Regions from separate parts of the Homo sapiens genome. Here region 1 is linked to region 2. A link means that fine-mapping ties the variant in region 2 to the expression of a gene that starts in the linked region. Tissue or cell type: ovary. Region 2 holds a variant in brackets; the other region holds the start of a gene. All regions are shown on one strand. Distances are between the middles of the regions.

Region 1 (5,122 bases), 920 kb before region 2:
AAAACTCAGTTCTTAACCATGACAGGATGGGAGGTCAGACACACCTCGTTATACCCCTTCCTATTTGGGATGTAGACACAACAACTGACCAGCATTAATGTTAAAATAGAGATCGTAAGAGTTGCAGAACGGACTCTGTGGCAATAAGATACCAAATTATAAACAAGACCTAAGGCCATGCCAGGCAAGGGTTAAGTCACATACCCCCTACCTTTAAAAGAATGAACTATGTTCTAACTGCCACAATATTTTTTTCACTAGCACTGGCCTCCAGATAAGCAATATTGAAATAATTGCAGTTCATCCACCACCAGATGCTAACTGATTCCCCTGTTCCACAGGCTTTGATAGGACAAGAGAATGATTTCAAAAATTTTCTTTTGATAAGATCACCAACCATGGACTTGTTCTAACAGGTTTACAAGGCCTGTGTACTTAAGTACCTTTGCTTCCCTCCTTCAACTTTTGACGTACAGGGCCTAATTGTAATGCATTTAAATATTAAGTCAGCTTCCCAAAATGAATATGGAGTGCATGTAATATGCATTTTTATTCAGTACAGGTGAGCACATCTCCCTTCGTGAATATTCATAGCCCCTCCTATAACCTGTTGAATATGTATACCTAGCCCACTCATACAGCATAAATCCCTGCCCCAACCCCTCCTCCTCCAAAGTGTGGGCCTTTCTGCTTTGCCTGAGACTATGCTTCCTAGCCTGTCAGGATGGCCACTTTGCAGACTGTAACCCTTTTTAAGAAATAGTCTCTCTAAATTTGCAGATCTCATGATTTTTCAGTTGACACTACTATGGGGACTAATGAAATCTTGTGGCCAGTAAAGAAACTATTTTTCCCTGGTTCTTAAACTTCCAAGTGTGCACACAAATCCTCTGTTAGGGCAGTGTATTTTTTTAAAATGCAGATTCTGATTCAGTAGGTCAGGATGTCGCTCTAACAAACCGCCAGGTAATGCTAAAGCGTCCCATCTGTGGAGCACACCTCAAATAGCAAGGGTCTTTAATACATTTACTCTCATTTGTGGAGGAGCACACCTTTTTCCTCTCCCTTTAACCAGTCACAGCTTCCTCTACTTTCATGACCGCACGCAGACATTTTCTGTAGATCTCCTCCTTCCCATTTTCTACCAATTCTTCTCCAGTTAGCTCAGGAAAAATCCCATTCTTTCTGCACCTATGTCAAATTACTCTTGACTCAAAAATTGAAGACAGTTTATGTTTTCGAGAGGCTTCTATGTTTGAGATGATAATACATAATTACGGTTGCAGAGCTTTTCTCTCCCTCTCCTTCAATAAACCAAAAGTGCCCAGACTTTGGAGTAAAATTTTTGGGTCCCAATCCATCTCTGACAATTCCTTTCTCTGGAACCTTGGACAAGCTACCTAACTTCTCTGAGCCTCAGTTTCTTCAACTATAAAACAGGGCTAACAGTAGCACCTACCTCAGAGGAATGTCAAATTCTCCTGCAGTCTATATTAACTACTTTTCTTTTATCAACTTAGTTTTTTACCGAAGTTATTTTTCAAAGGAATTTTTATGTCATCGTAAACACAAAGTCATTATCAGTTGAGATGGTTAGCTGACCTACCAAAACAAATGCCATGAAACCAAACGGAGTTATTAAATCCCAACTAGAGATACTTCTGCATACTGGAGGCGGAATTATCTAGCTAGGGATATAGTCAAGACTTCCTCCTTGTCAGTCATCCACACAGACGACTGCGATTAAACGAGTTAATACCCTGCAATGCGTTTACAGCTGGGCGCCGTACGCGCTGCTCCCAACTCTAGGCCATCGTCATGACAGGATCAATGCCAGTTCATGCCCACTTTCTAGGGCTGGGAGTAGGAGACCGAGGATGTCTGTGGAGATTCACCCGCCTGGCCCGGGAACCCTGGCCAGCGGGCCCTGGGGGACTTGGGGTGGTCACGTACTGGACTCGGGACTTCTCTTCCCAGGGCGCCGGTGGGTCCTCACACGCTCGCCGCAGGGCCGCGATCTCAGCTTGCAAGGCGCGCACCTCTGCCAGCTCTGCGTCCATGGCGCGTTGCTGACCGCAGCCGGGCCGGCAGCGCAGCTGTCACTCCGACCTGCGCGCTTCACCCGCGCTTCAAGCCTCGCGCGCGCTCCCGGCGCGGACCATCCCAGAGCTCACGCGGAGGGGAGGCGGGAGAGCTCCGCGTGACCCCAGCGGCCCTGCACGTCCAACTCCGCTCTCGCACGAGAGCCTGAGTCCTCCACTTCCCCGCACACGTTTCCCTGGCTGTCTAAGCAGTGGCTATACTTTCTCTGGAGAGCGCGTTCTTTGCTACTCCAAGCCCAAGCGCTCCGCTGCTCACCCTAGCCGGCAGCCTTGGAGCCGCCCGGCCGCGTGCCTCACTAAAGAGGCAGGGCTGGGATCACGTGGAGGGGAGCGCCTCTTTATTTTTTTCACCTACTTCCTCTCTTACGCCGACCTAGTCCAGGAATTGGTACACACAGCGATAGTGTTCAATAGAAACTAGGGGATTTTGGTTTAGGCTCTTTTGCAGTCGTTGAGGGGGAGGTGACGGAGGCGTCAGGGAAGGTGGGAGGACGGAAAAGGAAATTAAAAGCTCTTGGGAACTGAATTGTGGTAACGGAACCTTAGGAGGCTGGGTTGGAAATCGAGTAGGAAGGAAGAGAGGATGCTCCGTTGGGACACGTGACCAGAAGTTAGGGGCTGCAGCGGCGCTGGCTTTAGGTGAACGACGTGGTGAGGAGTGGGTTTCGGGCATGAGAAGTCACAGGGCCGTTTCCTAGTCTCTCTTCACTTCTTTGGGTCTTCTCAGAGAAAGAAGGCTGCCGTGGGTAGGCTGGGGGCGGAGACTATCGGGAAGAGGTAGGCCGAAGTTCTGCCCAGAATACACGCCATGTGGTGGACGCTGGTTGGGAGTCTCTTCTGGAAAGAGTCTGTCAGCTCTTGGGGAAGGGAAGGGCGAGAGCTGAGCGCCTGCCGGGTGCTAAACGAAATGAGAGATACTATGATGGGCCCTAGTACCTCTGGAAAAGTTTTCCTGAGTCCCCTGTGATACAGCAACCTTCATAGTATAGTGTTAAGAATTCCAAGTTCTGAAGGTAGACCTGCATTATAATCCTGGATTCACTAATTTTCGGTATGGCATTGAGGAAGTGACTTAACCTCTTCTGCTCTCCTGAAAAATGGGAAACATGCAAACTACTTTGTACAATGCAGGCACATAGCAAAAACACAAGTCTGTATTCGCTATATCCCTTGATCTTTGTGTCTGAACCCCACTTTGCAGCACTTTTATTGTGACATAATATTGTGCCATTTGTTTTATTCTTTTGTGACTATAAGGAGCTCCTAGCCTCTCTATTCACTTCTTTGGGTCTTCTAGGAGGAAGAAGGCTGGGGTGGGTAGGTTGGGGGTGGAGACAATTAGGAAGAGGTAGGCTAGCTCTTTTTATCTTTTAGTGCGTTACATCCTGTTTCTGTCAGACTTTGTTAAAGACAGTAAATGAATGTATGAGTGAGTCAAGGAAAAACATCTAAAAACATGAATACATAAAATTAAGAGGGATAGAGTGTAATATTATGGCCATTTGGAGGAAAAAAACTCTGTCTGTACCTGTGTCTATATGGGTATGGGGTTGCTGTTCCAAAGTGCATTCATGAAAGATGTGGATGTAGGGCTTGGGCAAAACCTCGAAGACTAAAATTTGGAAGTAATACAATAGGAAGTGAAATACAGATCCAGGAGACGGATTTGATACAGAAGGTTCAGAGGAAGTAGTTGTTTTGTTAGATTTTAGAAGAACTAAGGGAAAGAACTCTTCTCTGTATACAGAAAATTACTTTTCCCACTGAAACACACCCAAGTATATGCCCAGCCTTCATGAAAGTGAACAGAGAAACGAAGCGCCTTTATGTGGGTGGCCTTAGCCAGGACATTTCTGAGGCAGACCTACAAAATCAGTTCAGCAGATTTGGAGAAGTTTCGGATGTGGAGATCATCACACGGAAAGATGACCAAGGTAATTTATGGTCCTTCACTGGGCAGTTATAGGCAGACATAACTCAGGTTAAGTGCTAGAAAATAAAACAACCCCAAGATAAATGTTAGCTCTGAACACCAAAAGTTTTAAGTGATGTTGTGGAGGTATAATGTGTGATGTGGAACTTGACCAGAATTTGTTTCTGAAATAAGAAAAAATTCCAAATTCTAAAACATCTGATTTCAGAAACATATTAACTTCCAGTTTTGAGAACTAGAATTTTCTAACATGGATTAAGTGTCCCGTTAAGTAGACTATCACTAGCATACAATCAAAATGTTTCCTTATCTGACTACTGGACATTTTCTTCTTTTTTTTTTTGGAATATTTTGATAATTATGCTTATTTTTATAGCCAATAAAAAACAAGGTTTATCTTTGAAATAATAAGTTTTCAAGAGCTATTTTTTTTTTTAATTTAGAAACAACCGTTTTTACATTGCTCTCTGGATAAGAATTTAAATAAATTGTTTTGTTTGTTTGTTTGTTTGTTTTTTAGGAAACCCACAGAAAGTTTTTGCATATATCAACATCAGTGTAGCAGAAGCGGACCTGAAAAAATGTAAGATCATCATATATTTTCTATACTGTTTGCCAGTTTGTATGACTCTGTAACTTGGAATAACTGGTTCTAAATCTAAACCTCCACAGCCATTTTTCACGTTATCCAGAGGGACAGCAGTGATGAAGAGAATTCCAGTATCGTATAACTCAGCAGGTTTAGGTCCATTCCATTTGGCATCAGCAGACATGGTAGCACTTTACTGGTGGGTTTACTTAAAACTGCTATTCTCAAATATTTTGGACAAGGGACCAAACTTTCATAGAAACTGCCTGTTACATATATCCCACTGAATATCATGCCACATTCCCCCTCAGTCTGATCATTTCTTTGACAGCTAATCCTTGTCACTAAACACTCTTGAGGGGGCTTTAAAATACACCCTTGTAAGACCGTATCCTTGAAATTGTGAAATCTCTTGTTGATAAGTTTAGTAAAGTCAAGGGCAAACAGTGGCCTTCAATGAAGAATGGGAGATAATCCATACTGCCGCTGACACAGTAA
Region 2 (5,213 bases):
GGAGGCCTAGGTGGGAGAATTGCTTGAGTCCAGGAGTTTGAGCCAAGAATGGGCAACATAGTGAGATCCTGTCACTACCCCCACCCCCAAAACCTCCCCAAAATTAGCTGGGTATGGTGGCACATGCCTGTAGTCCTAACTCTGCAGGAGGCTGAGGAGGGAGGATCGCTCAAGCCCAGGAGTTCTAGGCTGTAGTGAGCTGCAATGGCACAACTGCACCCCAGACTGGGCAACAGAGCAAGACCTTACTTATCGCCCCCCCCCCCCAAAAAAAATGTAACTCCTTAGGAATAAAAGGAATATCATAAACAAGCAATTCCAATCCCACTAGAGACCAAAGAAACGCAAAGTAAAATTACACCGTGATACTTTGGTTTCATGATGTCAACCAACCAAACACCACCGCCTCTCCTTCCCACTCACAGAGCCCCCAAGAATGAGAGAAAATGTGTTTAAAACCAAATAAATGTATAACTATATTCAAAAATAAGAAACACAAACCTCAGAGCTCCAGAAGGTTTAAGAATTCCCAGCAAGGTGGCTATCCGGCAGGCCTAGATAGTGAGAGGAAGCTGCGGTCAGTCACAACCCGAGAAAGCTCCCACTGGGTTCCGCCCCAGTGACTGAACAGGAGAGCCCTGTGGGGAACCTGAGTGATCCTCAGGGGCATTGGCTGGGCGAGGACACAGCAGCCACAGCCACCAGCCAGGCCAATCGCAGTGGGGAGCAGCGCAGGGCAGAGTCGGCGGCCGGGGGCGGGGGTGGTTGGGGTGGCCTGCGCCCTGGTAGCCCACAGCGCCCCTGTGCAGTGCACGCATGCGCATGCGCCCCGCGGGAAGGCTGCACAGCTGCATAGCCATCTTGTGCCCATTGTTTGGCCTTTTTTGATTTTCGGTTTTTCATTGTTGTGCCCATTTTTATAAAGAGGAATGCTGAGACTCTGAGAGGTTGACTTGTCGAAACTCTCCCAGCTGGCCATGAAAAGCAGCGGTCAGGTCAGGCACTTTGTTCTTCCCCCGATATACCCGGGAAATGAGACTAAGGCGTCTCTCCAACCTGCATGAGAAAAGGAAGGAGTCCAAGGGAGTATCCAAAGTGACTTTGCTCTGTCAATCAGTAAAACTGCTGTCTAAGCATCTACTTGTATAGATATATAATAACTGTGTAATAACTTTATTCTTTTTTGTCCTCAACCAGCAAACATTCCCAAATTAAAACAGCCCCCATCAGCGTAGGTCTTCCATTGCTCATGGATATGCACACGTGTTTCCTCTCCTGAAGTCAGATTCCTCACAAATGGGCACCTTTTTGACACACAGCCGTTGTTAATTAAAACCTTAAAAGAAATCATGTTACATTTTTTAAAAAACTAGTAGCTGTTAAGCTCATTTTTTGAAAACTATGAATTATTTCTCAGAAATGAAAATTATTGGCAGCACCCACCTGGTTTTTGTTGCTTTGTGTTCTGTGGGGCAGAGATGGGGAGTTGTTGAAGTGTAGTATTAATTACCACTGGGATGTCTTGTGCTGGGCCACCAGCTACTTGCACCAAAAAAATTTAAATAAGAAAAACTTGTGGTTGGGTGTGGTGGCTCACGCCTGTAATCCCAGCACTTTGGGATGACAAGGCGGGCGGATCACCTCAGGTCAAGGGTTCGAGACCAGCCTGGCCAACATGGTGAAACCCTGTCTCTACTAAAAATACAAAAATTAGCCAGGTGTGGTGGCGGGCACCCGTATTCCCAGCTACTCAGGAGGCTGAGAGAGTAGAATCACTTGAACCCAGAAGACAGAGGTTGCAGTGAGCTGAGATTGTGCCACTGCACTCCAGCCTGGGTGACAAGAGCGAGACTCCATCTCAAAAAAAAAGAAAAAAAAGAAAAAAAAAATCTTGCCAAGGATGTGAAATTGTGGCATACTCAAAATACCAGTGAGGATACAGAAGTAAGAGAACATGCAGAATTATGAACCATATAGTCTTCCCAGAAAAAGGTACACAAGGATATCTCTGGAAAGGTAATAAAAAATACAACTGGTTTAAAGAGTCAGCCATGCACGGTGGCTCACACCTGTAATCCCAGCACTTTGGGAGGCTGAGGCAGGCGGATCACCTGAGGTCAGTAGTTCAAGATCAGCCTGGCCAACATGGTGAAAGCCTGTCTGTACTAAAAATATAAAAATTGGCCGGGCGTGGTGCGCGCATCTGTAATCCCAGCTACTTGGGAGGCTGAGACAAGAGAATTGCTTGAACCCGGGAGGCGGAGGTTGCAGTGAACTGAGATCATGCCACTGAACTCCAGCCTGAGTGACAGGGCAAGACTCCATCTCGAGGGAAAAAAAAGAGAGAGAGAGTTTGGCAGTAATTCCCAGAGGTTGCTTATTTTGATTCTAGTGGATGTAAGGAAAAAATTAATTCAAGAATTAGTGAAAATAAGACCCGGGGTAGTATGAGCACCAGAAAATAGACGACACTTCCTGACGAAGAGGCGCTACTTAGAAAGTTGGGAGAGAGAAGCTGTCACTGCTAAGTCATGCTGGAGACCGGCAAAGAGTGGTTACTGTCTGCTGAGTATCGATAAGTCTACAGAGAGGCAAACAGAAGTACTTGTGTAGAGCCTTCTAAAGTAAACTATTTCAGCTAAGTAGCCCAGACAGGTATGACGGCCATTTTTTATACCTCACTTTTGTCAATCTGATCCACTTGAGAAGGAAAAGGTTACTTTGGGGAAAAAACCTTAATAAAGTCCAAAGTTCTGGAGGTCAAGAAACTTTTGAAAGAGTACATGGAAGAAATCATGGTAGGAAAGGAGGGAGAAAAAGGAAGTTGTTCAAGAATAACATAGCAATCTAACAAAAGGGAGATGAAGAACAGGAAGGAACCTCAAAATTAATAACCCCTGAAGTAAACAT[A/G]TTTCAGTATAACAGGGTTAAAAAACAAAGTTGTTCTAACAGCTATGTCAGATTTCTAGTGAGAGAGGGAACTTTCTTTCTGAGAAAAGAACTTTGATATGATACTGGGATCCCAGCAGAAATGCTAAAAACCGTGATGTTTGTAGATGCCTGGCACAAACATAGGTAAGTTGCTTTGCAGAGAAAGTGAGTCAGATGATGGTGGTGATTTGTGCTTTTTTAGGGCAGCGGGGAGGATTGCTTTTGAAAGAAAGAGGATGGAGGAGAAAAGAGAAGGGAGGGAACCCTGCCTGGCTAAAGAGCCAATGCAGACTCCCTGTGGGTGGGCAGCCACAGGACCCAGAAGGCCACTGTCTGATTTGAAATAGTTTCCATTGCCGAATGGAAACAGTCCAGAATATTTCCTCCTTAGATTTTCAGTAGGTCCTACTAGACTCAGAAATGCTTTTTGTGAGTTTTTGTTTGCTGGACTTTATATCTGAGTGAGCATTCTGCAGAGCAGCTTGTCTGAAAGCAGGAGTCCAAGGCCATGGCCATGAAGGCTGACCCGAGGAACCTGCAGAATCTGGAAGGAGACTTGGACTGTGACGACCCATGCAACTAAGACCTGGAGGTCATCTTATCTAGATCTCAGGGGTTAGGGAACACCCCTACCTGCTAATTTTCAATGACCATGAATCGCCTAATGGATACCCAGTTCTGTGCAACATGCTGTAAAGGAAACATAACAAAAAGAAACTATCTCCTTGTGAAGAGTTTTAAATCTACCTGTAAAGGAAAGACCAAAATGCTAAAAGTAGTAAGAGCCAATAGAGTACATTATCAAGAGGTAGAATAGGTAGAAAGAAATCTATCTGGCTGGGTGCAGTGGCTCACGCCTATAATTCTAGCACTTTGGGAGGCCAAGGCGGGCAGATCACAAGGTCAGGAGTTCAAGACCAGCCTGGCCAAGATGGTGAAACCCTGTCTCTACTAAAAGTACAAAAATTAGCTGGGCATGGTGGCGCATGCTTGTGATCCCAGCTACTCGGGAGGCTGAGGCAGAGAATTACTTGAACCCAAGAGGCGGAGGTTGCAGTGAGCCAAGATTGTGCCACTGCATTCCAGCGAGGGCGACAAGGCGAGACTCCATCTCAAAAAAAAAAAAAAGAAATATATCTACCAAAGAAACTCAGGAAACAGAACTGGGAAGAAACTAAAGGACATTTTGGCAATTAAAGAACCTGGATTAGTCAGGTGTGGTAGTCACACCTGTAATCCCATCACTTTGGGAGGCCAGGAAGGAGGATTGCTTGAGCTCAGGAGTTCGAGACCAGCCTGGGCAACATGGGGAAACCCCATCTCTGCAAAAAATTTAAAAATTAGCCGAGTGTGGTGGTGTGTGCCTGTAGTCCCAGCTGGTCAAGAAGCTGAAGTAGGACAATCACTTGAGCCCAGGAGGTCAAGGCTGCAGTGAGCCGTTATTGTACCACTGCACTCCAGCCTGGGTGACACAGCAAGACCCTGTCTCAGGAAAAAAAAAAAAAGACATAAAAAGAAAGCAAAAAAGAAAGAACCTAGATGAGAAGGAAAATTTAGAACTTGGATGAGCAGGGAAGACGTGTTGGGCATGAATACTACTGTTGGGGGCAGGGGGCGGTAAAGTGATGAAGTACTCTGCATCATTGCAGAAGGGAATTTATTCAGAGGATTAGTAACAGAATTCAAAGATGAACATAGAACCAGTTGCCAAAGGACCTTGAATTCCAGGCTTAAGAAAATGCCTTTGATTCACTTAGGAATGGCTGGAGGAAATGTAACCTTGTAAATGCTGCTGAAAGACTTATCAGGGGTGTCAGCTCAAGGTGAATCCAGGTGGGAGAGTCAGGAGAGCAGGTGAGCAGGAGTCAAGAAAAAGATCTGGAGAAGCCAAAGAGCTCTTCCTTCCCTGGGTACATTAGTGTGTTCTGAACACTTCAACAACAGTGAAACCCCAGCAGAGCCAGGGTCACTGAAGATGGTGCATTGTAATGAACCTGTTCTTCATTTTCCGCAAAGTATGATAAGTATCATGATGTTATTTTTTGCTTCTTCAGTTTGTAGTTGCTTTTGTATTGTATGCCCCAAGTGGCACCTAATATCATACCAACATCAATACAGAACAAAATTGGGATAATTACTGAAATAATTCAAGGGAAAATATTCTGAATTTTTTGATATTTTAAATGAGTGTGTTTCTAGAAAAATCAAGATAATTGTCTATATTTTCCACTTCACTTGCTGTGAACATGCAAATTAGGCCTAAAGCTTGCAAAACACACTTA

What was found. PIP is the estimated chance that this variant, and not a neighbour inherited with it, causes the effect.
Region 1: it holds the start of CENPP, and the variant in region 2 is fine-mapped to the expression of CENPP in ovary (GTEx, PIP above 0.99).

Annotation. Positions count from the first base shown.
Region 1 is chr9:92,322,937-92,328,058 of GRCh38, reverse strand. It overlaps CENPP (centromere protein P), which reads right to left and starts at 2,106. Exons shown (of 8, transcript NM_001012267.3): 1 at 1,954-2,106. The coding sequence starts at 2,060. It overlaps NOL8 (nucleolar protein 8), which reads left to right and starts at 2,709. Exons shown (of 17, transcript NM_017948.6): 1 at 2,709-2,753; 2 at 3,850-4,036; 3 at 4,556-4,618. The coding sequence starts at 3,898. RefSeq lists enhancers at 2,501-2,610, 2,641-2,760, 2,539-3,427.
Region 2 is chr9:91,401,437-91,406,649 of GRCh38, reverse strand. No RefSeq gene overlaps it. Among named protein-coding and RNA genes, the nearest start is that of NFIL3, 20 kb to the left of the region's middle. The variant A/G (reference allele first, on the strand shown) is at 2,911.